3 separate regions of the Homo sapiens genome follow, and regions 1 and 3 are each linked to region 2. The links come from fine-mapping of genetic effects on gene expression. A gene starts in region 2. Each other region holds a variant in brackets. All regions are shown on one strand. Distances are between the middles of the regions.

Region 1 (8,828 bases), 41 kb after region 2:
TCTTACTTGTGCCAGTGAGTTTAATACCTTCAGAAGTTTTCTTGTTACATGTTAGTATCTGTTTCTTTCAAGTTGAACCCTTTAGATTTGTAAGACAGGTCTGGCATTGATTTCCTCAGCTTTTGTTTGGGAAAGTCTTTATTTCTTCTTCATGTTTGAAGGATAGCTTTGCTGGGTACAGTATTGTTGTTGGTGGGTTTTTTTTCCTTCACACTTTGGATTTTTCTTTTCTTTTCTTTTTTTGGAAACAGAGTCTAGCTCTGTCACCCAGGCTGGAGCGCAGTGGTACTATTTCGGCTCACTGCAACCTCCACCTCCCAGGTTCAAGTGATTCTCCTGCCTCAGCCTCCCAAGTAGCTGGGATTACAGACAGGTGCTGCTGTGTGCATTTGCCTCTCTGGTAGGAACTGTGGCTCTCTTCTTGGCCCCTTGCCACTTTGTGAGCTCCTTGAGGGCAAAGTCCAGGCTGCGGAAGACCCCTGGAAGTAGACCCCAAGGATTGGGTTTTCAGGGACTCTTGGTGCCCACCCCCCCCCCCCCCCCATCAACTGAGGCAAGTCCACCTGCCGCTTTCCTCAGGAGCTCTCCAAGCTGGGCCTGGGGAATGAAACAGTGGTGCAGCTGCGGACTCTGGAGCTGCCTGTAGATTACAGGGAGGCTAAGCGGAGGGTCACCGGAATCTGGGAAGATCATCAGCCGCAAGTAAGTGATGGCCAGAGGCAGTGGGGCATGGGACTGGCGATGTGGAGCTGGAGCCTCTGAACCCCCGGGTCCTGGTTCTAGGGTTGATGGTTGAGGGGCACCCCGTCCCCAGGCCCCACCAGTCATGCAAGGTCCCAGCTGATTGTGTAAGGTTCTGGGTCTGTTTGTAAAAGTTTAAGCCAAAATATGGATTAGATCTTAATAGAAAATCTGGAGAGAAAGGAGGAGGAAAAGAAATGGAAGTATTATTCCCAGCCAGGACTCAAAAATAGTTTCCACCTAAGGGAGAGGCCCTTGGGTTGGGCCCCACACATACCCATGAGGGGCAGGTAGGTTTGAAGGTGGACGTGAGGCAAGGACCTCTGTGCCCAGGGAGCGACTGGGAGGGTGGCCAGCCTAGGGGAGGCCCATCTTCATAGCACGAGCCCATTTTATCTGGACATAATTACTGTATAAAAAACAGATACAACCCCACCCCCCCAAAAAAAACCCCAAACAAGGACCAGATGTGATGAGGTTAATAAAACATACACTATCAAGCCATTCAGACAATGCCCCAGATGTTTTGATAACATACTTGGGCAGCTATTTTTCAAAAAGGAAAAATAATCAGCTTGAATAAATTCTAAGAAGATTTCACTGGATGGCCACTAACTTCCTTTATTAAAGTTTCATTTAAAAAAAGATGCAGGAGGCGGGCACGGTGGCTCCCACCTATAATCCCAGCACTTTGGGAGGCCGAGGCAGGCGGATCACTTGAGGTCAGGAGTTTGAGACCAGCCTGGCCAACATGGTGAAATCCCATCTCTACTACAAATACAAAAATTAGCTGGGCGTGGTGCACCTGTAGTCCCCGCTACTCGGGAGGCTGAGGCAGGATAATCACTTGAACCCGGGAGGCAGAGGTTGCAGGGAGCTGAGATGGTGCCATTGCACTCCAGCCTGGGTGATACAGCCAGACTCTGTCTCATAAAAATAAATAAATACATAAATAAAATATAAAATAAAAAGATTCAGGATTCCACCAAAACACGAAGACTCTGCTGTGGTAGCCTCACCACTTACTAGCTTGCCTCTCCTCCCTCCAACCCTCCCCCCACAAAAAGAGAATACATTACCCTGTAAGAATAATTTGAAGTAAAAAGCATTTAAATGTAAATGCAGCATGAGTTTTTATTCAGCTAAAAGAATCCAGCTGTTTTTCTTTCCAGCCATATTAATTAGGAGACACTGGTGGGGGATCCTGGGGTTTCCCAGTGGATTTGGGGTTTGAGATGTTTTGCACAGAGCCGGGCTCTCAAAAGGAGTGGCCCCTTCTGCACATTTGGTGAGCAGGGTGGGCCTCGTTTTCCTGGGTTCTCTCTGCTGTTACCCGTTCACACAGCTCGTCGTGCATGTGGGCATGGACACCGCCGCCAAGGCGATCATTCTGGAACAGTCTGGCAAGAACCAAGGCTACCGGGACGCCGACATCCGCAGCTTCTGGCCCGAGGGCGGCGTGTGCCTACCTGGCAGCCCAGACGTGCTGGAGTCAGGGGTCTGCATGAAGGCAGTCTGCAAGCGCGTAGCTGTGGAGGGTGTCGACGTGATCTTTTCCCGAGATGCAGGCAGGTATGCTCTGTGGGTGTCAGGACTCTGAGCAGGTAGGAGAGAAGCAATGGCCGTCAGCGTCCCCCCGACCTCCAAGAAGCCATCCTGTATCGTCCAGCTGGCCACTTGGCCATGCGGTGCCGCCCCCAGATTGCCCCTCTTTGCTGTGTGCAGGCCAGCACAGTTGCTCACACCTTGCCTGAGGTCTCGTTTGTGAGACCTGCCTGTGGAAACACGGTCTTTGGTGTGTTGATCTAGGAGAAGAGATGGGAAGGCAGACTTCAAGAGCCACTAACATTTCGTGAATGTTTTCTGATTTTGATTTTTGGGGTGACCGAAGTTGTGAGTTAACTGTGTTGATGTAGCCCCAGATAAAGATTGATTTACCTTTGTTTCTCCAAACTCCGATCCCCAGTAGGTGGTTTTTCCCCTTTCCCCAGTGAATGAATGAGTAAGTGACTCAACGAAGACATGAATGAGAGGGATTCACTGGGATGCAGGTGCTGTGGAATATCTGACCCCTTTCTGCCTTGGCCACTTGCCGGTCATGAGGCCATGAGGCCAAGAGCCAGCTCTCCCCAGCTCATCCTGGCACCATGTTCTTTCTGAGGTGAAACAACACAAGTCTCCCTTGGGTGGCAGTGCTCCCTCCTCAGGCTTTGTGGGTGTTGCATTGCCACTTCTGCGTATGTTTCACTGAGGTTAGAGGCTGGTCCGAGAATTAATGTGGCATTTCCTGTGGTTGCAGATACGTCTGTGATTATACCTATTACCTGTCTCTGCATCATGGAAAGGGCTGCGCGGCACTCATCCATGTCCCTCCACTATCGCGCGGGCTCCCGGCCAGCCTGCTGGGAAGAGCCTTGAGAGTCATCATCCAGGAAATGCTGGAAGAGGTGGGAAAGCCCAAGCACAGAGCCCAGTTCGAAGAAAACTCAACCATGGTCCTTCCAGCCAAAGGGAACTGACCGGGGGATTGCTCCTCTAGAGAAAATTGAATGTTTCAATCCTGTATGTAGCACTCAACTGTGCATTGAGAAACTTTTTCAAAAATTGCTTGTAAGACAAAGAGGGTGGAAAACTCTGAATTAGCCCAACAAAATCACAAAGGGTTATTTTATTGTCAGGAGAAAGAACACTCTGAAAGGTGGACATTTCACAGGGGATGAACTAGCTTCAGTTATGGTTTTCATGACAATAAAATGAAATCCGAGTCATCTGTTTTCTTCCAAAAATCTACACAGTGGGTCTGTGTGATCCTGCGCAGACTGTGGGGACCACAGACCTGTTTTGGAGATGCTTACAGAAGCACAGAGACAGCCGCTGCTCCAGGGACCCCATTCCTGGCCTTTGAGCTTGTGTGTCCAGGTCCTGGGTAGCCTCGAAGCCACCGAGGCTCTACTGTATGATTTCTCTGTCTCTGTGTTTGCCCCTTTTACTACTCATTTTAATAATTTCAAGCATACAGTTCAGTAGTATACAGTACATTTCCTTGTTGTACAACCATCACCACCATCCATCTCCAGAACTTTCTCCTCATCCCAAACTGAAACTCTGTACCTATTAACTCCCTATTCCTTCTTCCTCCCAGCACTTGGTGCTCACCACTCCACCCTCCATCCCTATGAATCTGACTGTAGGTAGCTCATATGAGGGAGTCATGCGGCGCTGGTCCTTCTACATCTGGCGTATTATTTCAGCCTCATGTCCTCCAGGTTCATCCATGTTGTAGCATGGGACAGGATTTCATTCTGTTGAAGGCTGAATAATATTCCAGTGTATGTATGGACCACATTTCATCCATTCAGCTGTAGATGAACACTTACGTTACTTGCTCCTTTTGGTTCTTGCAAATCATGCTGCTACAAACACTGGCGTGCAAATATGTATCCGAGTCCTTGCTTTCAGGTCAAT[C/A]TCCAGAGGTGAATTCCTGGATTCAATGCTAATTCTGTGTTTAATTTTTTAAGGAACTGCCATTTTGTTTTGCACAGGGGCTGCACCATTTTACAGTCACACTGGTAGTGTTTGGTTTGAAGGCGCAGGTTAATAGCCGGGCTTAGCTTCTCTCCATGGTGTCTTCCCTTTTTAAAAGCAGAATCTCCTTTCTGTTTCATGTTTTGTTTTGCTTTTATGACACAGCACCGGGTCTTGTGCCAAGCTTCTCCCAGCAAGATTCTACCTGTTCAGTGTTTTCTAGGGGCAGATTTCCTTTGGGAGTCCCATTGGTAACATCGCTTTTTTTTTTTTTTTTGGAGGAAGTGAGTGAAGGTAGGTGAGCTCTGGGAAATTTCTTGTTACGTTGGTGTGCTTACAACTACCATTTTTCACTTGACTACATTTAAAAAATTCATCAGTTAGTGTTTGGATTCATTCACTATTAAGAAAAGCATTTGCAGCTTCCTAACAAAGGAACCAGGCCAGGCGCAGTGGCTCACACCTATAATCCCAGCACTTTGGGAGGCTGAGGTGGGCGGATCACTTGAGGCCAGGAGTTCAAGACCAGCCTGACCAACATGTGAAACCCAGTCTCTACTACAATTACAAAAACATTAGCCGGGTGTGGTGGTGGGTGCCTATAATCCCAGCTACTTGGGAGGCCGAGGCAGGGGAATCGCTTGAACCCAGGAGGCGGAGGTTGCAGTGAGCCGAGATTGCACTATTGCACTCCAGCCTGGTCAATAAGAACAAAACTGTGTCTCAAAAAAAAAAAAAAAAACAAACAAAAACCCACAAGAAAACCAAAGGAAGCAGTCAAGGCCGCCAGCACGCTTTTTGCATTTGGAGTAGCCTTTAGGGGACTCCCTTTGCAAGTACACCTGGATCATTTGCTAGAAAACAGATCAAAGCCCACATATTGGGGGATGGGGGGAGGTGGTGCTGGGCGGTGTGCACAGGTCTGGCTGCATGGTTGCTAATGTGGAGATCTGTCTCTGCTATGGGCAATTCTGTCCCAGGACACTGGCAAGCAAGGGGCCCCCAGGACTGGGCTCCAGTGTTATATTTCAGACTGCCTGGCAGCATGCCATAACATTTTTTAAATTTTTAGATATTATCCAGTTGGGAGGCCCAGAGCTCCCTCTTCAAGAACTTCCCCATCATTTCCCCCCGCTGTGGCCCCTGAAGTTCTCCAGGGAGAACCCCAGAAGTCTCATTCACACCTGGGCTGTGTACTTCACCCAGCATCCCTTGTCAGTATGCACAGAGCCTGCTTAGTTCTGGCAGTGCTGAAGCCAGATTGAGAACCACAGCAGAAAAGGCTGAGAGGCTGAGTCCTGAGTTGGTAGCTGGTGGGGAGGTGGGGGGGCGGGGGAGGGGTCTTGAGCATGCCTGTATGTTTGCTCATCTGTAAGAGTAATTAAAATCCTTCCTTTGCAGGGTGATTGTGAACATCTGGTGAGAGAATGGATGTGAAGGTCTTTTTAGCAACATTAGAACACTACAAAAATCACACATCTGAGTGAGTATGGACTCATACCTGGACTTGGGGGGTAAATGCAGAAATAGCTCTTGAGGGCTTGCAGTCTTAAGAAATGGCCTGGAGGGGAAAGGTTCTAATGCTTCTGAAGACCCAGCACCTTCATCCTTAGATATTGCTGCTCCTTCTGGCTGGGCAGGCCAAGTGCAGACTGCACTGTGGCAACCTGGAAGGGCAGCATCTACCTGACCAGGGAAGGAGGAGGCCCTGTTGGGCTTTCCAGCCTCAGAATTGAGACCTCCTCATCATCAGTCACCTAATGAAGATCCCCTGAGTGCCAGGCACTCGGTGACAACACTGAGCAGTAACCCTGAAGCAATGCCAAGCTTGAGTACCCTTTTTGAGACAGAGTCCTACTCTGTCACCCAGGCTGCAGTACAGTGGCACAATCTTGGCTCACTGCAGCTTCTGCCTCCTGAGTTCAAGAGATTCTCCTGCCTCACCCTCCCAAGTAGCTGGGATTACAGGCACCCGCCACCATGTCCCACTAATTTTTTGTATTTTTAGTAGAGATGGGGTTTTACCATGTTAGCCAGGCTGGTCTTGAACTCCTGACCTCATGTGATCCACCCACCTCAGCCTCCCAAAGTGCTGGGATTACATGCGTGAGCCACCGCACCCCAGCTGAGAGTCCCCTTTCAGAAAGGCCTTTGCTTTTAGGTGCAAACACTTCTGAGGCTCAACAGGTCTGAAGTAACCATGGTCTTCGGTTTACTTCTACCTATACATTGCTGGACAGCTCTTCTTCTACTGGCCCGATTTTGCTATTGGAGCATAATTTCCCATGATAAAGTTGAAGGAAATGACCAGCTTCTCTGCCTGATGTGTCTGAATCCTTAGTCTGATTCTAGAACACACCTTGCCATACATGCCATTTCCCCTGACAAAAATAATGTTTACATTGTAGGGTCCCTAGGGGCAGACAGAGATCACTGAGCAGCAGCTAGAAAGTAACTAGGACTTTGGAGCTCCTCCAGTGACCCACATTCTGCGTGAGGCCCACTGGGTTCTCACCAGCATCCCCCCGAGGTGGGCATGTCAGCTGTGAAAGACCAAAAAGCACATGGGAAATGTGAAGAACTGAAGTCCTCTGCCTTGGGGTCATGCAGATCAGACTTGCCTTGGCCTGACTGTTGTTAGTGGAAGGTATAGGAAAAAAGTCTACAAATCAGTCGGAACTGCAGTACAGAGTTTCGTAATTTATGTATTCAAATTTCTTTCCAGATGATTTAATGGAGGGAGAAACAGATAGCTTCCCTGTCGTCTTTACTGGCAATCTGCATGCTGAGAAAGCTCAGCTGTCAGAGAAGAGGCAATGCTTTTCTGGAGAACGCTTCCAGGCAACATGCGTGAACACACGTGCCCCACATAGCTCAGCTTCCCTGCCACCAAAGTGTAGTGATGCTTCCAGGAGGGACAAAACCAAACCAGAGACAGAAATGCATACAGAATTATTTTATTTAACTTAAACCATGTAGTACTTTACTAGAAAAAAGCAGAGTAAGAGAAACTAACGTTGCCTTAGCTTCAGCCATTCAAAATAGACAGTTTCTTTTTTCCATTATGTAAAGAATCCAGAGTATATCGCAATAACAGGAATAAATTCTTACAACAGAATATACAAAAACATTTTGAAATTTTTTTCATCTACTGATTTTTTATATAAACAGGATTTTTTAGGAATAATTTATACACAGAAAGTCATTTTATGTAACAAATTGGCCATGTTATTACCTTTTTTTTTCTTACTTAAAAAAATTTTTTTTTAACAAGAAAACTCAGAAAATGCATTATTTGCGGTGCATCCATTCCATCCCGCCTTCTGGTTTGATTTTTTTTATCCCAGACAAAGGGATACCCAGAGGTAGACAAACTCTGGCAAACCTCTCACCTCAACCTCACTGGCTTAGAAAGCAGACAGGTGTTTTCACCGGGCGTCTCTTCCACCGGTGGATGTGTGTGTGCAACGCCAAACATCCAAATGAAAAGTTGAAAACAAAACCCAAATAGTTTCCAGATCTTTCTCCTATGTAGCGCAAAAACCCCAGGTGTTTCCCATGATAGAGATATTGTGGAGTTGGGGAGACATGGCCAACAATCCACTGGAGTTAGAGGAAGTGGAGTCAACTTTAAAACCAATTTTTGTGTATGTTATAGTTTTTATTAAAAATTCTTTTCTGTATTGGAAATACGTATCTTCGGGGTTCTGCCTTAAATAAAATAGGGTCTCTTCTGTGTTCTAACAAAGCAGTAATCAGTCATGATACGAGGCATGTAAGCAAATGGCCTGTGTGCCCCATAGCTGTCATCGTTTATGTGATCACTGTGTATGCTGTAATCATCATGAAAACCATTGGCTGTGCAGTCAAGTCTTCCCATGTCCATGGCACTGTGCTGACAATGACGGCAGCCAGACCAATCAAGCCAGATGCCGAACGGTGCCATGCACTGCTGGGCTCCAACACCTCGGCTGTTTCCATGGCCAATGAGGTTCTTTCCATCTGTTAAAGTAGCTACACTCCAAAGGGAAATGACCAGTAAAAAATGATCCCCTTCCCAACCAGAGGGTTCTGGAAGACCAAGATACTGAAGATACAGAACTACTTTTTAAATCATCATCATTCCTTTGTTATAAACTAGGGCAAAAAGCATGGGGGGAAAAGAGGGTGAACCACGGATGGGGTCAGGGAGAAATCCTTTTTTGGCATATTGTAAAGCTAGCTAGTAAACAGGTGTCCTAAAAAAAAAAAAAAAAAATGGATCACAAACACACATTTGCACACACAGAGAAAAAAAAAGTGTCTTTAAATTATTTTCGGCAATTATAAACTACAAACATTTTATAAAATTATTCTGTTCTTACAAAAATGCAATGAAACATTTAATTAGTTCTTGTAAACCAGATCTTCGTCAACTGACTACCCGTAATCTACTGGACTTAAGAGCCCTATTGAAAACGCTAATGAGTGACTAGTTAAAACAATGTTGACCAGAAAGATGCGGACACACACACGTGGGACATAAAAATGAGTGATCGTTATGTTCTCGCAGAAACAAAACG
Region 2 (10,452 bases):
CTGGCACCTCCCCACCCCCCTGCGGCTCTTAGGGGCCGAAAGATTGAGGGTCGTGATCAACTCAGTATACCACTGGAGGCCACGTGAGTAAGCAGCAAACTGTTTCTCATGAGAGCAGGGTGTTGGCAAACTGACAACCTGTGTCTGCCGCCCAGAAGGACTGCTGAGGGCAGTCACCACCCAGGTGCAAGTGTTTAGGATTAGACACAACTGAAGCCTGTTAGTAATGAGAACTTGTGATAATCAAACAGCTGACCAGTCTTAGGGCCTCCTCCCTGCTCATTCTCCCAATGAATGCGAAGGGCTGTGGAAGCTCGGGGGGCTGCCTTCGCTCACTAGAAGCAGGGAGCTCCCTTCTTCCCGGTTTCCCCTTCCTTTAAAACAGATTTCTTTAATCATTTCTACGTTTGTCCTTTCGTTCAGTCCTGTAATGACGGTCTCAAGTAGTAACAATAACTGTCGTAGTGACGGTCTCAAGTAGTAACGGTAATAACTGTCATAGTGACGGTCTCAAGTAGTAATTGTGGCAGTCAGCCACAGGCACACAGGACTAAAGGTTCATTAATGTCTGCTGTAAAAATGTAGAATATATTTCTTCAAGGTCTGAAGTATACATTTTTTGATGTACGTTTTTGTTACATTTTTTAAAGTTCTCTTGTTTTTAAAAAATAACATGTATAGGGCCGGGCGCGGTGGCTCATGCCTGTAATCCCAGCACTTTGGGAGGCCGAGGCGGGCGGATCACGAGGTCAGGAGATCGAGACCATCCTGGCTAACACGGTGAAACCCCGTCTCTACTAAAAATACAAAAAAAATTAGCCGGGCGTGGTGGCGGGCGCCTGTAGTCCCCGCTACTCCGGAGGCTGAGGCAGGAGAAGGGTGTGAACCCGGAAGGCGGAGCTTGCAGTGAGCCAAGATCGCGCCACTGCACCCCAGCCTGGTCAACAGAGCGAGACTCTGTCTCAAAAAAAAAAAAAAATTACATGTATAGAGCTTGAACAGTTCTTTTAAAATATGTATGTGTGTGTGTGTGTATACAGTATATATAAAGAATAATGAACTGAAAAGTTCCCTGCTTCTCATTCAACTCCTATATCCAAAGTCAGTATTAGTCAAATACCTCCTCTTTTCCTTTTAGTTTCTGAGTTTTGCGTCTCGCATGAGTATTTTGAAACTACTCCAAAACTAGAAAATAATTCTTCTAAATTTACTTCCAGTATTTTTACTGTCTTGATTTTCAGATTTGAATTTTAATCCAATCATAATTTACTGACCTATATGGCATAAGGAATGGATCTAGCTATATCTCATGGTTCCCACACCATTAAATGGTATATTCTTTCCGCTACTAATTTGAATTATCTCTTTAACTATATATTAAATTCTCATACACATTCTAGCTGTTTTATTGACAGTTTTCCTATTTCTACAACAACACTGCACTATTTTAATTACCCTAGCTTTTAGCATATATTTGGATATCTGGGAAGGCAAGCCAGTTGCATCTAGTCTTTAACATCGGTTTGCATTAACATTTTTAAAGTTTCGAATCTTCCCATTACAGAACATGGCATCCTTTGTTTTATTCGGGTCTTCTATGTTTTTTTCTTAAAGTCCCACAGTTTTCTTTTCTTTTTTCTTTTCTTTTTCTTTTTTTTTTTTTTGAGACAGAGTTTCACTCTTGTTGCCCAGGCTGGAGTGCAATGGTGCGATCTCGGCTCACTGCAACCTCCTCCTCCTGGGTTCAAGTGATTCTCCTGCCTCAGCCTCCTAAGTAGCTAGGATTACAGGCATGAACCACTACACCTGGCTAATTTTTGTATTTTTAGTAGAGATGGGGTTTCACCATGTTGGCCAGGCTTGTCTGGAACTCCTGACCTCAGGTGATCCACCTGCGTTGGCCTCCCAAAGTGCTGGGGTTACTAGCGTGAGCCACCGCGCCCAGCTAATTTTTGTATTTTTAGTAGAGAACAGGGTTTCACCATGTTGGCCAGGCTTGTCTGGAACTCCTGACCTCAGGTGATCCACCTGCCTCGGCCTCCCAAAGTGCTGGGATTACTAGCGTGAGCCACCGCACCCCGCCAGTTCCACAGTTTTCCACAAAAGGATCTCATACATTTCTTGCCAGGTTTATTCCTAGAGATTTCTGATATTTGAAGGGCATTGTGGATGGGCTCTTTTCTCCAATTACATTAGAATTAGTTATTGCTGATATATAAGAAAACTCTTAGGCCCTGAGAGGTGGCTCCCACCTGTAATCCCAACACTTTGGGAGGCCAAGGCAGGAGGATTGGTTAAGGCCAAGAGTTCAAGACCAGCCTGAGCAACATAGCAAGACTCCATCTCTACAAAAAAAAAAAAATTGAAAAATTAGCCAAGCATGGTGGCACACACCTGTGGTCCCAGCTACACAGAAGGCTGAGGCAGGAAGATCGCTTGAGCTCAGGAGTTTGAGGATGCAGTGAGCTCTGACAGTGCCACTGCACTCCAGCCTGTGTGTCGTCAGAGAGAAACACTATCTCTTTAAAAAGAGAAAGCTATTAGCTTCAGTATATACCAGTCTCATATCTAACCATTTTTAAGAGGTCCAGTAATTTTTAAAAATCAATGATCATAAATATTATAATCGGATTGTCTATAAATAAGCTGGATCGCTAAGCCTTCCTCAAACCTACTCAGCCACTTAGCACTCACTTCTGACACGAAAGTTACCTTTGGCCCCAGTCAAGAAAAAAAGAAAAATGCCTCTTACATGTGTATACTGGAAAATAGCGGCCCCTCGAAGGCCTGGTGCATGTTTTAGTGTGGCCCCTCTTCCATTCCAAGAGGATATTAAGCTCTCTGCTGCACCCTCCATCTGGCCTCATTTGTCTACACAGGAATTTCCTCAGTGTTAAGAACACAAATGTTCCAGTCATTCCTAAGATATTTGTGAAATTTGAAAGAAAAATCCAGTATTTAAACAATAGGGGTAACAAGCTACTGGATTTTAACAAGTAGAAAACTTCCTTTTGCAACAGTTGTTACTTTGCAGTCAAGGAGCTGTAGTCCCTAAAAAAAAAAGTGATCAAGGCTTAGCAAAAGTCTGAGGGAAAAATATAAGACAGAAGAAAAATAAAGACAAATCCTTCTCCTACAAAATGTAACAGAAATATCACCTTGCGACAGAGTCTCACTCTGTCGCCCAGGCTGGAGTGCAGCATGCGATTTCGGCTCACTGCAAGCTCTGCCTCCCAGGTTCACGCCATTCTCCTCCCTCAGCCTCCCGATTAGCTGCGACTACAGGCACTACTAAAATTAGCCGGGTGTGGTGGTGCACACCTGTAATCCCAGCTACTCAGGAGGCTGAGGCACGAGAATTGCTTGAACCGGGAGGCGGAGGTTGCAGTGAACCGAGATTGCACCACTGCACTCCAGCTTGGGCCACAGAGTGAGACCCTGTCTCAAAAAAAAAAAAAAAAAAGTCTACTACATTTATTCATTTATTTTATGGCCCTTTTCAGAAATCGTGTGCTGGCTGGCCCCTGCTGGGGTACAAAGCTGCAGAGGCAGAGGTATAGAGGAGGGTGAGTTCTGAATCTGCCTTGGTAGAGTGACATTATTGGAGGATCCCTTAGTGCTTTGACAAGAAGCAATTTGGCTATGGGTTGTGTTTTATAGTAGAGCTAAGTCGCTTATCTGGAAACAGTGATGTTTGACATGGAGAAAGACTTATGTTATCATTATTTTGGAAATCACAAGTGCTTCTTGCTGATTGATTTATTTTCTCCCCACCTCCCAAAGGAATTTGACCAGTTTGATTAAATTTCATTTATGTCAAGTGTACAAAATGTGTTGTAAGAGCTGTTTGTGTCAGAGACAGTAAACAAACCCCTTTAATCTTTTTTCTTGCGAGAGCAGGAAGTCACCACTTGCCAATGAGAAATTTAAAACAAATCCCACAAAGTTTTGAGTTTAGTTCAGCACGTGAAATAGTTGAGGTCTTGGGATCTTGTAATCTTGGCAACTCCCATTTGCTGTCCCTGGTGAGAACACTTGTGTACCGTTGCTTACTTTCCGGTTCACTAAGAGGGTCGCACCTTGCCCTCTTAATCCTAGAGTCAAATCTGATTACAAACATTTTCCTCTCGGGAATCCCGCTTGTAAGGAAGATCACTGTGCTCTCTGTTAAATAAAACAGCTCCATTTAGTTGCCTTATTCGTTCTCAGGCTTACTGTATTTCATCAGCCTAAAGACTGTGTTTGACATCAATTATTAGAGACCATTTGTTTTTACAATGGAAAAAGAAATAAAAGTGCAGATGTTGAACCTCAAAATCCATACTTCTCAGAGCTATTTTCATTCCAGAAAGTAGGAATGTGCTGGGGGGTTCTTGTGTGGGGAGAGGGGAGGTGAATGAATACAAAAATAGACATATCACTGTGACTAAGTAAAATATTTTGTGTTGTTTTTTCTATTAATTTCAAAATTAGAGAAAACTTTAGAACAGAAAAAAATAAGTGAATTATGGGAAAGTGAAAACTGCAGGACACATTCCAGTTTAGTTAAAATAATAGCTCCTGTCAAATCAAAAAAAAAATGATGAAAATTTCAGCTTTGTTATCAGAAAAGTAGTATGGTTAAAGATGGGCAGTCTTTGCACTTAAGGAGTCTCCTTAAACACAAGTTCCCATTCCCAGACCTCATAGGTGAATGTTGATAGCAGAGTTGGACCCTAGCAGCAACCAACTTTACAAATGTGGGCATTTCTGGACGGGCGCGGTGGCTCACGCCTGTAATCACAGCACTTTGGGAGGCCGAGGCAGGTGGATCACGAGGTCAGGAGTTCAAGACCAGCCTGGCCAAGATGGTCAAACTCTGTCTCTACTAAAAATACAAAAAATAGCCAGGGCTGGTGGCAGGTGCCTGTAATCCCAGCTACTCCGGAGGCTGAGGGAGAGAACTGCTTGAACCTGGGAGGCGGAGGCTGCAGTGAGCCGAGATCGCGCCACTGCACTCCAGCCTGGGCAACAGAGCGAGACTACATCTGAAAAAAAAAAAAAAAGAAGAAGTGGGCATTTCTTAATGGTCCAATCTCTTCCTTTAACTGTGCAGAGGAAGCCAAGCCCCCACTGAGAGGTGACAACATGCTGGTAGGCCTCGCAGCCGTCACTCACTCTCGGCTCCTCTGCCTGGGCTCCCACTTTAACGGCACTTGAGGAGCCCTTCAGCCCGCCGCTGCACTGTGGGAGCCCCTTCCTGGGCTGGCCAAAGCCAGAGCCGGCTCCCTCAGCTTGCGGGGAGGTGTGGAGGGAGAGACGCGGGCGGGAACCGGGGCTGCACGCCGCGCTTGCGCGCCAGTGCGAGTTCCGGGTGGGCGTGGGCTCGGCGGGCCCCGCACTCCAAGCAGCCAGCCCGCCCCGCCGGCCACGGGCAGTGAGGGGCTTAGCACCTGGGCCAGCAGCTGTTAGTGCTCGACTTCTCGCGGGGCCTTAGCTGCCTCCGTGCGGGGCATGGCTCGGGACCTGCAGCCCGCCATACCTGAGCCTCCTCCCCCGCGTCATGGGCTCCTGCGCGGCCTGAGCCTCCCCCACGAGTGCCGCCCCCTGCTCCACAGGACCCAGTCCCATCGACCACCCAACGGCTGAGGAGTGCAGGCGCACTGCACAGGACTGGCAGGCAGCTCCACCTGCGGCCCTGGTGCGGGATCCACTGGGTGAAGCCAGCTGGGCTTCTGAGTCTGGAAGGGACTTGGAGAACCTTTATGTTTAACTAAGGGATTGTAAATACACCAATGGGCACTCTGTATCTAGCTCAAGGTTTGTAAACACACCAATCAGCACCCTGTGTCTAGCTCAGGGTTTGTGAATGCACCAATCGACGCTCTGTATCTAGCTACTCTGGTGGGGACTTGGAGAACCTTTGTGTCCACACTCTGTATCTAGCTAATCTAGTGGGGACGTGGAGAACTTTTGTGTCCAGCTCCAGGATTGTAAACGCACCCATCAGCACCCTGTCAAAACGGACCAATCAGCTCTCTGTAAAACAGACCAATCGGCTCTCTGTAAAATGGACCAATCAGCAGGATGTGGGTGGGGCCAGATAAGAGAATAAAAGCAGGCTGCCCCAGGTAGCAGTAGCAACTTGCTGGAGTCGCCTTCTGTGCTGTGGAAGTTTTGTTGTTTTGCTTGTTTGCAATAACCGTTGCTGCTGCTTACTGTTTGGGTCCGCACTGCCTTTATGAGCTGTAACGCTCACCGTGAAGGTCTGCAGCTTCGTTCTTAAAGCCAGCCACATCACGGACCCACCGGGAGAAACGAATAACTCCAAACACGCCACCTTAAGAGCCGTAGCACTCATGATGAAGGTCCGTAGCTTCACTCCTGAAGTCAGCGAGATCACGAATCTGCCAGAAGGAAGAAACTCCGAACACATGCGAGCATCAGAAGAAACAAACTTGGGACACGCTGCCTTTAAAAACTGTAACACTCACCGCCAGGGTCCGCGGCTTCGTTCTTGAAGTCAGTGAGACCAAGAATCCGCCGATTCTGGACACACCATGACGGAACTAGGTAAGTGATAGGAGCTAGGAGAGCTGCTCACCAGAGGAGGTAGAGACCAAGTCTACAAGTGCATCCGGGGTATATTGAGAAACCGGGTAACTTCTGTGAAATGAGGCAAAGTACAAAAATCCTCTGCATCCCACTCATGGCAAGGTGGGCCCAGCTTCTCAGGACAGGGAGTGGGAGACTAGTGGGAGCAAATGGCGCTTCCCACCTGTTGGCAGTGAAGAGGCCTGCAGCCCACACCAGGAGCTAATTAAAGGGAATTGTTCCTGGTTCAGAATCCCAGAAAGCCACCAAGGGGGGTCTAATCCGCGGGGGTGATCCCAATTAAAAGGGAGCGCTTTATATCAGGAGGACAATTCAGCAGATGGAGCCACGTGGTCCTGCTGTCACACTGAGCTCTCTAGAGGCCGCAGGGTGCTTGAGAGGCTCTGCCTGCTTCCCTGAAGGGAGCTTCTCCTCCCCAGACCTAGATGGGGACAGAGAATCATGGGTCTTCTTCCTCTTAATATACAGCTTCAGGAAAAAAGTATTTTCAGTTTAAAAAAAAGTTTAAGAATATTTTTAGAGACAGGGTCTCACTCTGTCACCCAGGGTGGAGTGCAGAGGTGCAGTTACGACTGACGGCTCAAGTGATCCTCCCGCTTCAGCCTCCCTGAGAAGCCAGGACTATGGGCATATACCACGTTTTGAAAAAAATAATTGATGCAGTCTTGCCACGTTGCCCAGGTTGATCTTGAACTCCTGGCCTCAGGCTATCCTCCTACCTTGGCCTCTCAAAATGCTGAAATTAAAGGCGTGAGCCAGTGCACCTGGCCAAAAGTTTGTTTTGTTTTTAAATAGAATTCTCCGAAAGATCAAGATATTGGAAAACAGCTTTTTCGATAGAGGAAATAGCCTCAAATGTTAGCCTTTTTCAGTTATTCTGACACATTAAAAAGAGGACTGTCTGCAGAGCCAGGTGGCATGCCACGGCTGTGGCTCACTGTCAGTGGCATGTTTAAGGAGTCCAGCACAGTGTCAAGAAAGCACTTTTCGCAGGTAGAACGCAGGGTGGTGAGCACAGAGCTAGCAAGCTTGCACAGACGCTAGCTAGGTGGCAAGCCTCTGTTCCTCAGGGCTGATGAAGCTGGGGACAGTGCCTGGGGCACAGAAAGAATCCATACAGGATCCGGTGCTGCGATCCTCGTTTCTCAAAACAGGAAACCTGAGCACAGAGGTTAACTTCCCTGAGGACCCACAGCTCCTAGGCAGCGGTGCTTGCAATCAATATTTTAAAGGCAGGCGCCATAAGATTCATCTATGGTTTTCTCTCTTTTTTTTCTGCTCACATCTCACATATTTTGTGGAATTAGTTTTCAGAGCAATCAAATTTTACCAAATCATAATGGCCAAACACAATGAGGGGCTCTGGCAGGGATTACTAAAGAGGAAAAAATAAGATCTAAGTAAACGACTTGTAGGGTAGCCCACAGTTCCTAGGACAGTACCTCTTTGAGCACCATGTGGTGTTCCGTCCCAGACATCCTTCTGTCCCAGGCAAACCGGGACAGCTGGTAGCCAAACCCTTAGCTCACCTTTGAACCATCCTGAACAACAAAGTGACCCAGACTCAAATGTCCAGAAAGTCCCTGCTGGCGCTCCAACCCGCTGTCCTGAGCTGGATCGTTCTGCTTTCAAGGGGCATTGCTTTATCACCCTCCCCTAGATCCTTGGCCTTTCGGGGCCCAGAACGCTACGGACGCCGGGCGGCCAGGAGGGGTTGGGCTCCCGCTCCACCCCGGTCCCCGGCGAGCACGCGGCCAGGCAGAGAAGGTGCCCGGAGCTCAGAGCGCGCAGAGCCCGGCCGCTGGGCCGCTGCCTGAGCCAGGGAGGCGCAGCGCGAGCTCCCACTTCGTCTTCATGGATTCCCAGCCCAGCTGCGTGGTGGTGACTGGTAAGACTACATAATTTTTTTCTCTCCTATTTGTTGCTGCTTTTAGCCTGCCCCTGGAATGCGCACTGGCCTGATCCTGGGTCTTAAATAGTTCCCTGAGGGAAAAAAAGAATGGCAACTGGTGGTGCTAATAATTCCAGATGGAAACGAACTTGCTGCTGTGCCCTATTAATAAACAATCAGGATCACAGGCATTTCTGCTTCTGTGGCTCATTCGCTTCAAGTAACTCTCGAGTGGCGGGCACGAAGGTGCCACTGGTGGCTTAGGCTCAGACCTTGCCTTTCAACCCAGCAGGGAGGAAGCTGAGGCTGGTACCTGTTTTCCCTGAGTGGGGCCCGAGGCACGTGAGGTATCCCTTGGGGGTGCAGGCTCATAGCAAGGAAGAGGGATCTATACGCCCAGAAACCACAGGGCCCTCACAAGGCTTGCAAACCCATCTACAACAGCCACCCGCAAAGGAACACACAGTCCCCACTTCCAGAGTAAGAACTTCCATTTTTCAGGGAGCTGTGAAGCACCCCCCGAGAGCCACTAGCTGGAGACCCTGAGCCCCAGAAGGTCAACTTGGAAGGAATGGTGGCTGCTCACTCCTGCAAACACCAGCACATCCAGAGTCACCCCCACCCACACTTGCCTCACCAAGTCAGCATCCCAGCTGGTCCCTGGGGGCCTGATCTTCACAAAGGTCTTTATTTTTATTAATTTTTTTTTGAGACAGAGTCTTGTTCTGTCGCTAGGCTAGAGTGCAGTGGCGTAAGCTCAGCTCACTGCAGCCTCCGCCTCCTGGGTTCAAGCGATTCTCCTGCCTCAGCCTCCCGAGTAGCTGGGACTACAGGTACGCACCACCACGCCCAGCTAATTTTTGTATTTTTAGTAGAGATGGGGTTTCACCATGTTGGCCAGGATGGTTTCGATCTCTTGACCTTGTGATCTGCCCGCCTAGGCCTCCCAAAGTGCTGGGACTACAGGCATGAGCCACTGCGCCTGGCCCTATTTTTATTTTTATATTTTTAATTTTTCTGAGACAGTCTCCCTCTGTTGTCCAGACTGGAGTGCAGTGGCTCAGTCATAACTCACTGCAGCCTCAAACTCCTGGGCTCAAGTAATCCTCCCACCTCAGCCTCTGGAGTAGCTGGGACAACAGGCACTCACCACCACACCCCCCAATTTATTTTATTTTAGTTTTTAGTAGAAACAGGGTTTTCCTGTATTCCCCAGACTGGTCTCTAACTCCCGGGCTGAAGTGATCCTCCCGCCTTGGCCTCCCAAAATGCAGGGATTACAGGCATGAGCCATCATGTCCAGCCTTCATTTTTAGTTAGACACATTTGGCCGGTTTTAAGTTTTCTGAATTGTGTTGGATGAAGAGGCAGGGTTTCCTGGATGAATGGGAAATTGAAAGTTGTGTCGCTTAATCTTTTCAGACTATAATTCTAACTCCTATCGACCTTCAGAGAAAAAGTTCTTTGGGAAACCTTTTATCTCCCTTGCTCTTATTTGTGTTATTTTGGTTCTGGAGATTGAATGGTTCAAATTACTCTTGAATTCCTAAGGAAACTGTACTCTAATGCATGCAATGCTTGTCATGAATGAAATATGAACATTGAAGCACCATCTTAGAATCACACTGACCCCTGCCTTTGTCTTGTCAGCCTGTGGTTTGCTGGCAAACTGGAAATTGTTTGATGAAATACCTGATAATCAGCCATGATTTGGGAATGCCCGCTGGATTCCAGAGCGTGGCCTTCCTGTGTTAGAAATGCTTAGAGCTGCCAGGGGCAGTCTCTTCATTTAATTGGATTTGCTTCGTGTGTAAATCTCCTCAAGACAATTGGCATGTAGACAGATGGTGGGAGAACGAGGGCTCCGACAAATTGCTTCGAGATCAAAGTGTTCAGACTGGCACCAACGATAACCACAAGAGTGAGAAAACGTGCATCCCTCCCACGGGCCTCTCAGAATTCTAAGA
Region 3 (10,198 bases), 53 kb after region 2:
AGATCCCCGGGGTCCTGGGAGAGATGGGTCGCGTTCCAGCAGGAGGCTCCTGAGCGCCTTCACTTAGGCTGGAATTGCCGAGGAGCCATCCACGCTTAGGCAAAGCTGCCCGCCACACTTCCCAGCGAAATCATCAGTGCCTGTAAGAGCAGCTGCTGGAAGAGGGGAGCGAGCCGTCTGTCCTGTGAGCAGCAGGACCAGGGAGACGGAGGTACAGCCCTGGCGGGGGGGGCGTGACGCCACGAGCCTCGGCGCCGGCCACTGGGCTTTCCAGCCGGAAGGTTTGGTACATCTCTGTCTACCCCTAGGGAAGGAGGTGAGGGAGAAGTTGAGAGGGCAGCCTGGAGGGGGAGGGGACTCTGCTCCTGCGTGTGTTCTATCAGGGACTGGCTGTGAGGTCAGGAGCCTCTGCATTCTGGCGCACAGGCTGGGTGACTCTTGCTCTCCAGCTGCTGCTGCAGCTGCACCTTTGTGCTCAATGAATGCAGCAGCCATGGCCGCACGGTCCTGCCTCAGCGCGAGCCTCCTGCAGGGATGGAGCAGCAGCAAGGGGAGCAAACCCAATGCCCCACGCCTTTACCCTGGGGATTCGCACAGAGATGGTGCTGCCTGGACACCTTCCTCTCCTCAGAACCTGAGGAACCACTGCTCTCTTAAGGACGAAATGTGTTGGTCATTCCATCTGCACAGAAGCAGTTTGTTCCAAAGACAACCAGCCAGGGACAGCCTGGTGGCTCCCCCAGGTGTGCTCTGGTGCCCTCGTTGGCCTCACAGGGCCACCTGGCTAGGAGGAGGAGAAATCTAACACCTTGGTGGAAACCAAGATAGAAAACAAAACAAAAAAAGCAACACAAAACAGGACATCTCAGAAAAAGGCAAGCTGTCTGAAATGAGCAGAGAGGTGAGTTAGTGTTGCTTTGACCCCGGAATACAGCCTGGCTTCCCCCTGCATCACCTGGGTGTGGCGCCTGTGGCGTGGATGAGGTTACCAGTATCAACGGCCTATTGTCAGGTGCTGAGAAAGGTGAGATGTATTCTTTTGTCTATATACACATATAAAAAATAAGAGTGAGGTAGATAAATGTTTGGGGGAAAAAAAACCCAAAAAATCAAGAACTGTCCCATCACTCTCACACACACACACCCCACACATACACACACACACACCCTTTCCTTGAAATTTAAATTCATAATGGGGCTTTTCTACAGTGATTGAAACTGGTAATTTATCACAAAATAAATTAAAAGAAAACTCCTACATATAATACCTTTTTTTTTTTTTTAAAGGGAACACGCTATGGGATAGAGACTAGAGAAAGCAGTGGGACAAACTGCTGACCAGCAAAAAAGCCGTATAAACTTTCTTTTCTGTGTTGAATCTTCAGTCACAACTAGCAATCACCGTATCCCAGCTTTGTTCTTACTCCTAAACATTTCTATCCCAGAAGCAACTCTTGTGCTGTCATCTCTCTGGTGAGAAGTGCTAAAAATGAAACAAGACAAGACCCCTGGGCCCCAAGGACCTGGATTCCTGGCCGAGGGAAAGTGGGCCAGCACCACAGCCCTGGTCCCCCAGCAAGAAGCAAAGGGGCTCTTGGGCCACCGTGGCGTCTGTGCTGCCTCCACCTAGCACTCCAGCGGGCACAGCCCTGAGGGTGCCGCCCTGGGCCAGCCTGGATCCCGGGGTCCCACTCAACGCCAGTGCGAAGGAGTTCCCTTGGGATGTTCTGGTTCCAAAGACAGGTCAGTCGGTCCGGTGAGGGGGGTGGCGAGGGCCACAACAGGCCCTGCCGGACCACGCTCTGCTGCTCCCTTGGACTCAGCAGCTGTTTTTCGTGGGATGGAAGGATTAAATAGCCATTAAGAAAAATAGTAATCCAAATGCCTAGTGTCTGCGGTTAACACTGCTGTTGTACCCAAGAATTAAAAAAATATATATATATGTGTGTCACAACCTAAGCAAAGGCAAGGGAAAGAGAGGGTGAGGCTTCTCAACCACGGTGAGTGGAAACACTGAACAAAGACGTGTGAAATATTTAACCTTTGTTTTTCTGACCTGAGTTTGTATCATGTCTTGCACTGTAACAGGCTCCAATGCTGTGAGGGCAGGCTGGGGAGAGGAGCGCGGCCCTCTCAGGATGGGTGCCCGGCCTGCTTTCTGCCTCGTGCCCAGAGAGCCTACGGGTTAGAAAACAACTAAAGGGGCAGGTGGGAGCAGGGATGGGGGATGTATTTATAAAAAGGCATCCAACAGTTCATGGCAAATTATGTGATAGAAGTATCCATTACCGGGAAAAGAGGAAGAAAGTCACGCACTCTAGTACAAAGCATAAGAAGTTTCTTGGAGTGAGCAGAAAGGGGAGAGGGTGGACCTGAAGGTTTTCATAGATTAAATCCACAAAGATCAAGAACAAAAAAAATAGCAGCTTTTTTTTTTCTGTACAGACGTATAGATGAATATCTGAACCGTAAAAAAGTTATAAAAGTGACATTAAAGACGATGTGTATGCAAATGTTTCATGGTCTAACATAGAACTGTAAGACCCATGAAGAAGTCCTAGGAACAGAGAAAATGTCAACAAAGCTTAGAATGCTTGAATCCATTGACTGCTTTTCTTCTTACTGCTGTTGTGGTGTTTGAATTTCTTTCCTTGCAAACCTGCATCAACAGTGGGGCTGAGTCCCTGGAAACCCCTTCCCATCTGTGTCCTTGGGGGCGGGCGGGGGAGCTGGGGCTGGGAGAGAAGCAGGCATGGGGCCCCTTGACTCCAAGCCTGTCCGCCAGGCTGCTTCGGGGCCCATGGCCACCAGATTCTTGGGGGTTGGGCAGGGGGCTGGGGAGGCAGGGCAGGGAAGCCGGTTCAGCTTCTCCCCACCTTCACTGAGAGAAAGACCTATTGTGTCCAGTTCCCCCAAATAATAATCTAGTCAGAAGCAATGAGACCTGTGTGCCTGTGGCCTTGAGCAGCACAGCAGGGGCAGTCGGATGGACGGAGTGTGTCGCCAGCGTGTCTCTCAAATGGAGCAACCAGCTGCCATGCTCACCCATGCCTCCGGACACGAGGAATCAGCGCCGGGCCGATGAGGGAGAAAGTTCAGGATTTTGGCAAAATTAGGCAGCGTTAAAATGGTAACAGCCTTGGATGAACGATGGCCCTTTGTAAATTTCATGTCCCTAGAAAGGTGAAAGATAAAGGTAAAAATTTCCATCTCCACGTGTTTTTTTGTAATGACCCACGGTGTCAGGCGGGTGTGTACAGTGGTTGGATGGGGCCAC[AGG/G]GACAGCCACTTCCTCAAACTGATAAAAAGGGCTTCCCAGCTGGACTTGTGGCAATTATTTTTCCGTTATGAAGCAGAGAGGAGAGAGAAAGGGAGAACAGGGAAGGACAGGGACAGAGTGAGGAGACTGGTTCTCAAGTGCTCTGTTGCTATTAAGTGTTGTCATTAAGGTTCTTAAAGGCCCATGTCAGTTAAGGGTTTGGGCAGGGAATAAAAAGCTGCTTGCATATTGAAAAAAGGAACATCCCAAATGTGTTTTACTGCAGAGAAGCTGTCTCCCGCGGGCAGCAAGGGCAGTTCTGAAGATCCACTGAGGTACAGGAGGCTTGTGAATGGATTGTTAAAACTCTCTCTCCCCCCCCACCCCGCTGCGCGTGCGCACACGTTACTGTTTGCACAGATTCAGGATCCAAGGATCAGCAGGTCGAAGACTGGGGCAGCGGCAAGGCCCGCTCGTTCTTGCGGCCCCCGTTCATGTGGGCGTAAGGCTGTCTCTCGTCGAAGCTGGCGCGGAGGACCAGCACCCCAGGGCCGGGGCCGTTCTCGGCCTTGTGTCCTGAGTGTCTGTCGGGCAGTGGCAGGGAGGACGAGGAGGCCGAGGGGTCCAGGGGGACGCTCTCCATGTTCTCTGGCTCCAGGTCCAGCTCCTCCGGCTCGGGCAGCTTGTTCTCCTCGCTGTAGTAGAAGGAGACCTCCCGGAAGCCAGGCTCCATCTCCTCTTTGATGCTGCTGATGATCTCCAGGAAGGAAGGCCTCATCTTGGGGTTATACTGCCAGCACATGCGCATCAGTTCAAACCTGCAGCCAAGACACACGGGAGGGGGTCCAAACCGGGAGGGCGCACATGGCCAGGAGGCTTCATGGGCCGCCTGCAGTGGTTTCCCGCATACAAGCGTACGGCGGGAGCACTGAACACAGCCCTGCTGCCCCTCTCCATCCCTGGCTTTCTGCCTGGATGGCCAAGTGGCCTTCAGAGTCTCCTGTTTTACCTCGTACGGTTCCATTCTCTTCCCCCAGAACCCAGAACCACCACGGTACAAAACCCAAACTCTCCTTTCCCAAGAAGGACTAATCCAGGTCCACACTGTCCATCGTGACAGCTGTTATCTATGGTGGCAGTGCTAAGAAACAAAAATAACCAGTTTTCTATCTGAGGCGTCTCATGCAGGCACTGCTGAAACATCCTTTCCAGAATTAGCAGGAAACCCCTGGTTTCTCACCAGGAAGGCTGATGAGTGACCGCAGCTTCCCCAACAGTGCTCTCTCTCCGGTTCCCACCTGTGCTATTTCTAAGCTTCCTCCTGGTGCAGGGCTACCCCTGGCAGACAACCAAAGGAAGAAGGCACTGTGAGGCCAGGCTTGCAACACGAAGAAATGCACACTCCGAGTCTGCTGTCTCCATCTAGCACGTGCTCGCTCCAGCCCTGCACAAGCAAGCCCCAGCCGATGAGCCAGGCTGTTCTGGACCAAACGAGAGGCCCCGTGTAGACCTGAAGCCAGATTCCAACAAGCCAGCAAGGAGAGCCCTGGGCACGAGTCCCCTCCACACGCAAGGGACAGGCAGAACAGGATGACGCTTGTGCTGTGTGTCGGTCGCATCGGCTGGGCTCCGACAGCACCTGGGCTGCAAATACCTGTGAGGCCCTCAGAGTCACATGGAGCAAAGGGAGTCCTGCCGGCTGTGGCCGGGGCTCCCCAAGAAAACAGCCGGCCACACGTGGACAAGGAAAGCCGGCTGCCCTGACCCAGGAAAGGCCCGGGCTTTGACAAGCTTCCAGAATGCAGAGACCCAGCTAAACAGACTTTTGGGGCAAAAAGCAGCTGGCTACCATCCAGGGCTGGCCATAGTTCTGAGGAGTGACCGCCAACAGCCCTCTCTTACATGAGCGTGAAACCAAAGTGCCTTCCTTTCCACGTCTGTTCTCACCAGGAAGTTATCCTCTTTATTTTAAAATTCTGGCTAAAGAGATGCTTTTCCATAAAAGTGGCCACACAGAACTCTCCACATCTAGGAAACTCAAAGCACACCCAGTGGCATCTAGCCTCCTGTCAGGGTGGCTGCTTGACCACAGACTACCTGCCCGTGTCTGGCCTTCAGGGAACATTCCAAGGGGAGGCCCCTGATGTAAGAGAAGCCACTGGGCCTGGAAGCTGGCCTGCCAAGAGAAGGGCTCCTATGGCCACCTGGCAGCTTCCTTCAGGTGGAGAAGGTGCAACCTTGAGGGAGGGTGGGCCTGGGTGTGAGGGAGAGCCATCCAGAATTCACTAGAATTCAGCGTTCTAGAGCCCGGGGGCCTGCGTCTCCACAGGGCCTAACCCGGGGCTGCCCGCCTCTACATCAGCTGCACTGGCATGGGGCCACGCTCCCTCATTTCCATGTGGGCTGCAGCTGCTTTCCAGCTACAACTACCAGCTGAGGACATTAGGACAGAGACTGTGGCCTGCAAGTCTAAAAATGTTTATTTACCACGTCGCCCTTTAAAAGAAGGAAGGGTGCAGGTTCCTGTTCTGGGGAGAAAAGAATTAGACAAAATATGAAGGCCCCCACAGTATGCTTCTTAGATTTGGAGAGTTCCATGTGGCCACTTTTATGGAAAAGTATCTCTGTAGCCAGAATTTTAAAAGTCTACCCCACGGTAGAATGCCATGTGCACGCTAGGTGCCAGGCAGCGAGGCAGTTATGTGTGTGAACTGCTGAAGTCCTCACGAGTTTGTGAAGCAGGTGCTACTGACTATAATATACCCCCATGTTACAGATGAGGGAACAGAAGCACTAAGATACTAAATAATTTGTCCAAGATTACAAAATTCATGAGGGTGGAGCTGGGATGGAGTTCTCTGCGCAACAGAATGACTACACTTTGATCACCAACGATCCTGGAAAAAGGAATTTTTCTCAACCTAAATAAGAGTAACCCTGGGGCCACCAGGAGACCCTCCCTCACCTAACTGTCCAAGGAACAGTCACAGATGTCACAGGGATGTGGTTTGCATTGATAAAAGCTGGCAGCTTGATGACAAATAAGCCTGCCTTTCCAAACTCCCCATCACTTCCTAAGAAAAATGATTGGGGTTAAAAAAATTAAAATAGGCCATAACGACATGAAATGCCTGGGCTGTGAATTCCTCTCCAGCTGACTTACCCCTGGGCAGAAGCGTAACTGGGCCAAGAGCATGAGATGTGCTTGGCTCTGTGCCCTGTGGCCAGGGACCGAGGAGGTGCCACAGGAGAGCAGCGAGGCAGTGACATCAGCACAAACAAGCCATGTGACGCCTCTTTTAAACCATTCCAGAGTAACAACCCTTCCAGTGCTGCCCATGAAAGGAAGTCTTTTTTGCTCTGTGGGATTCAAGACCTTGTTTACTATTTCCACACACACAAAAAATCTCCATTAGACTCTAGAAGGATGTGTGAGCTGATAAAACTCATCTTTTAAAAAGCACAATTTTTTTTTTTTTTTTAACCACAGGTCAGTTCTGGGGAGGCTGGCGCCATCCTTCTCGAATGCTCTCCCCTTTGGGGGACACATACCCAGCCCTTCTCCTGGAACAGGGACAAGACTCAAATGGAATTCCTGCCCTGCTGGGAAGCAGCTTCCTGGGGGCCAGCTGTGACCCCCCCCGGAGGCTGGGTGACGGTCAGCAGGGTGAGCACACAGAGGTGCCTCCGTATTCTCACTTCACTCTTGGCCCTGATGTCCTGAACTGGACAGGCTGTGACCTGTGTGCGATGTCAGCAGGCCACGAGGCACCCGCACATTCCCACACGCTGCCGGGAATCAGCACGGCCCCAGCCCGGTGCCGACGCTCACCGGATTCCCAGAGGACCTGCGGGGCTGAATGTGTCTCTCCCTCCTGGCAGCCCTCAACAGTAAGGGTCGTCTTAGGAACCACGCCTCAGCCAGGAGCGGCTGTGGACATGGGGCCTGTGTGCCTCAGTGAGCTTACTGGGGCTAACTGAGCAGGAGCGCCCTTCCTGTCTGTCTGGGTCCCACTCAAGCACTCGATTCCCGCAGAACCAAACCAGGATTCCAGCGATGGGAAAAACTGTACTGGAAAACTACAAAAAACATCAGATTTCACTAAGTTTGTTTCAGACTCATCTATGAGTTGATAATGCTCCAGGCTAAAGTTCAGATTCCCTCCTGAATCCTGTAGACCAAAGACGTCTCTGGCAACAGTCTGGACACGTGGAGCTGTGGAAGTGTTAGCAGCAGAACAAATGGCTTCCTGGCCCAAGTCTTCCACGGCTGCGTTCACACCTCTGCCCTGGCCCTTATCCCGCAGCAGCCGGGACCTTTTACGTCACTACGTTTCCTGAAAGCCAGGGCCACTCCTGGCTCATCTGTGTGACCTCAGGGTCAGCACGCACCCAGAGGAGCTCAACAGTATCTGTGGCATAAATACCGAGATCTGGGCTGAAATAAGGCTGAGGACGGGCTTTGTCATCAATCTAAAGTACAGACCCAGCAGGGAACCACAACCCAAATCTGATGTTGTGATACCTGCTAAGTTAATTCACACTGAGTCATGGCGTTGAGACTCAGACCTCGACACCTTGTGGCTTGGGGACCACGGAGTCCTTCCTCTAAAGCCAGAACACTCGGTGACACTGAGGGGTGAGAATCTGGCTACTTCCTGATGGTGAGCTCCAGTCCACCTGCAGCCACCGAGCTCCTTCAGCCCCTAGTGTCACCAGATGGTGCCTGTTCAGATCTCAGAACCACACAACTCACACACTTTCTCACCTGGGACCCGGCAGAGGTTTCAAGGCAACTCCCAAGGGCTCAGGGACTCTCCTCTCCGGGATAAACGGAGGCCATTCTTTCATGTCTTGTAGCAACAGAACTCCCATGCTAGAACCCTCCTTTCTCAGGTAAGCTCATCAGTAAACTCAGAAGGACAACATGACACTCCCTATGAAACCAAGTTGCCTCCTTTCATTCTACTCTTTTCTTGGAAGGGAGAAAAATTTTCTCAGGAGAAAACATTTTCTTAGAAGGGAGAAAAATTCTCGATGGCAAAGCAGAAATGCCTCCTGAACTAAACATTGAATGTCAGAGTAACCGCTCTGAGTAAATTTCCTTGTCACTCTATGCTGAGAACAGGAAGTGCCCTGCGTTTCCCATGGCAGGGGCTGCGTCCCAGGCAGTTTACATTAATAGTAAAAGCCCAGTCACCTGGAGGTGGACCAAGTAAGAATCCCACAAGTCTCTTGTAGATAAACGTTTACCCGAGTCAAAGAGAAAGCACAGAACAATACCGCTCTCCCTCACCCACCCTAAACCACAGAAGCAGAACTCACACCTGCTTTCATGGGCTGTTTCTAAGCTTGCTAAAATACCACCAGTTCTAGTATTAGCCTAGATTCTAGCACTGTACCTTTATGCAGATTCAGTGGTCATCAGACCTCTTACTCCATGGCTTATATTCAGACTTGAAAGCATGATTTTTCTCATAATGGCTGGCAAGAAAACAGTGGCTGCGCTGCTCAAAGTGTGGAGCAGATGGTCACCTGTGAGGGGCAGTGTGTGTGTGTGTGTGTGTGTGTGTGTTGGTGGGGTACTGGGGGGTAGCCAGGCTCCCGGATCCCCAGTGGTCCTCTCCCCTGTGTCCTGGAGCTCACATCCCCACGTGATTGACTCTCACATGGTGTAACCTGAAGGAGAAGGTGAGAGCCTCAGTGTGACTTCTGAGGTTTGGTCAGAAAGGACGTCGTGCCTTCTGCTCAGGTCCTGGATCTTTTACTCTAGGGCACAGCAGGCAAACTATGTACCTGTGGGTAAAATCTGGCCTGCTGCCTAGTTTTCCAAGGTCTATGAGCTAAGAATGGTTTTCATGTAAATGGCTAAAAGAAATTCAAAATAAGAATATTTTGTGACAACACAGGGATGATGTGGAATTCAAATTCCAGTATTAAAAATAAAGCTGTATTGGAACACAGCCACGCTAGCTTATGTGACGCCCACAGCTGTGTTTGCTCCACAGTGGCAGAGTCCAGTAGTCACAGTCAAGGTCGTATGGGCCCACAGAGCCAAAAACATTTTTTTAGCCGGCCTTTTAGAGAAAGAGTGTGCCGAACTCTGCACTCAGAGAAGCCAGCTACACATCCTGAGACACTTGGGCAGTGCTACGGAGAGGCCCACGTAGAACAGGGCGATTCATGCAGGGCATACTACCTATGCAGCAACACCTTGGAAGTGGGTCTGCCTCCCCCAGGCAAGCCTTCAGATGACTGCAGCCCCGGCGGACAGCTGGGCTGCAACCGCGAGAAGGGCTCCAAGCCAGAGCCAGCCAGCTATGCCGCTCCTGCGTTCCTCGCCTTCAGAAACCTCTGAGAGATAATACATGTTTACTGTTGCTCTTAACTAGTAGGTTTTGGGTAGTTTGTTATACTGCGATAAAAAACTAACACAGAAGGGGAGAAGAAGAATTTCTATACTGGGCAAGAAAAGGTACTAAGTGGTCTTTCGAGTCTCTTCCAAGTTTGGATTGTGGAGTTCTGAAGAGGCCATGCTGGGAAGTTTCCTTGATGAGGGCTCCAGGAAACCCAGTGCCACTGCATCTGTAGGTGCCACCCTCAGAGAAGAGGAGCCTCCCATCACTGGCCCAGGCCCAGGGCACCAGCCGACTTTCTGGTTCTGGCCCTGCCTTGATGGGACAATGGGAGCCCCCACATGTGCTAGCTGTGCAAGGGTGATGCCTTCACTCTGGCTTTCCCTGGTATCCTTCCTGCGCCACCTTTCTGAATTCCACACGAAGTGTCCACTGCCTGGGATACACTTCAGCTGAACCTATGTTCGGAAGCAGCAGCTAATGAGCATGCCGCCCAGCCAACGTACTCCCAGAGCACAGGGGTGTGTATCCAGTCTTCCCCACCCCATGCCCTCCGCTGGCCGGCCATTTACAAGGAGCTTAG

Which allele goes with the higher level. Positions count from the first base shown, and alleles are read on the strand shown. Sizes are in standard deviations (SD) of each study's normalised expression. Not every link is listed here.
With allele G in place of AGG in region 3, the expression in hippocampus of the gene that starts at base 6,119 in region 2 is higher (moderate effect, 0.45 SD a copy in GTEx).

The links.
Region 1: its variant is fine-mapped to the expression of PGPEP1L in prefrontal cortex (GTEx, PIP 0.92).
Region 3: its variant is fine-mapped to the expression of PGPEP1L in hippocampus (GTEx, PIP above 0.99). The same link has a PIP of 0.9 or more in lung.

What each region holds. Positions count from the first base shown.
Region 1 is chr15:98,962,910-98,971,737 of GRCh38, reverse strand. IGF1R (insulin like growth factor 1 receptor) reads right to left here. Exons shown (of 21, transcript NM_000875.5): 21 at 7,208-8,828. It overlaps PGPEP1L (pyroglutamyl-peptidase I like), which reads left to right. Exons shown (of 5, transcript NM_001167902.2): 3 at 580-702; 4 at 2,087-2,313; 5 at 3,041-3,509. The coding sequence starts at 2,105. The coding sequence ends at 3,260. Among named protein-coding and RNA genes, the nearest start is that of PGPEP1L, 40 kb to the left of the region's middle. The variant C/A (reference allele first, on the strand shown) is at 4,207.
Region 2 is chr15:99,003,459-99,013,910 of GRCh38, reverse strand. It overlaps PGPEP1L (pyroglutamyl-peptidase I like), which reads left to right and starts at 6,119. Exons shown (of 5, transcript NM_001167902.2): 1 at 6,119-6,552; 2 at 8,255-8,482.
Region 3 is chr15:98,950,940-98,961,137 of GRCh38, reverse strand. It overlaps IGF1R (insulin like growth factor 1 receptor), which reads right to left. Exons shown (of 21, transcript NM_000875.5): 21 at 1-4,077. The coding sequence ends at 3,696. Among named protein-coding and RNA genes, the nearest start is that of PGPEP1L, 52 kb to the left of the region's middle. The variant AGG/G (reference allele first, on the strand shown) is at 3,278.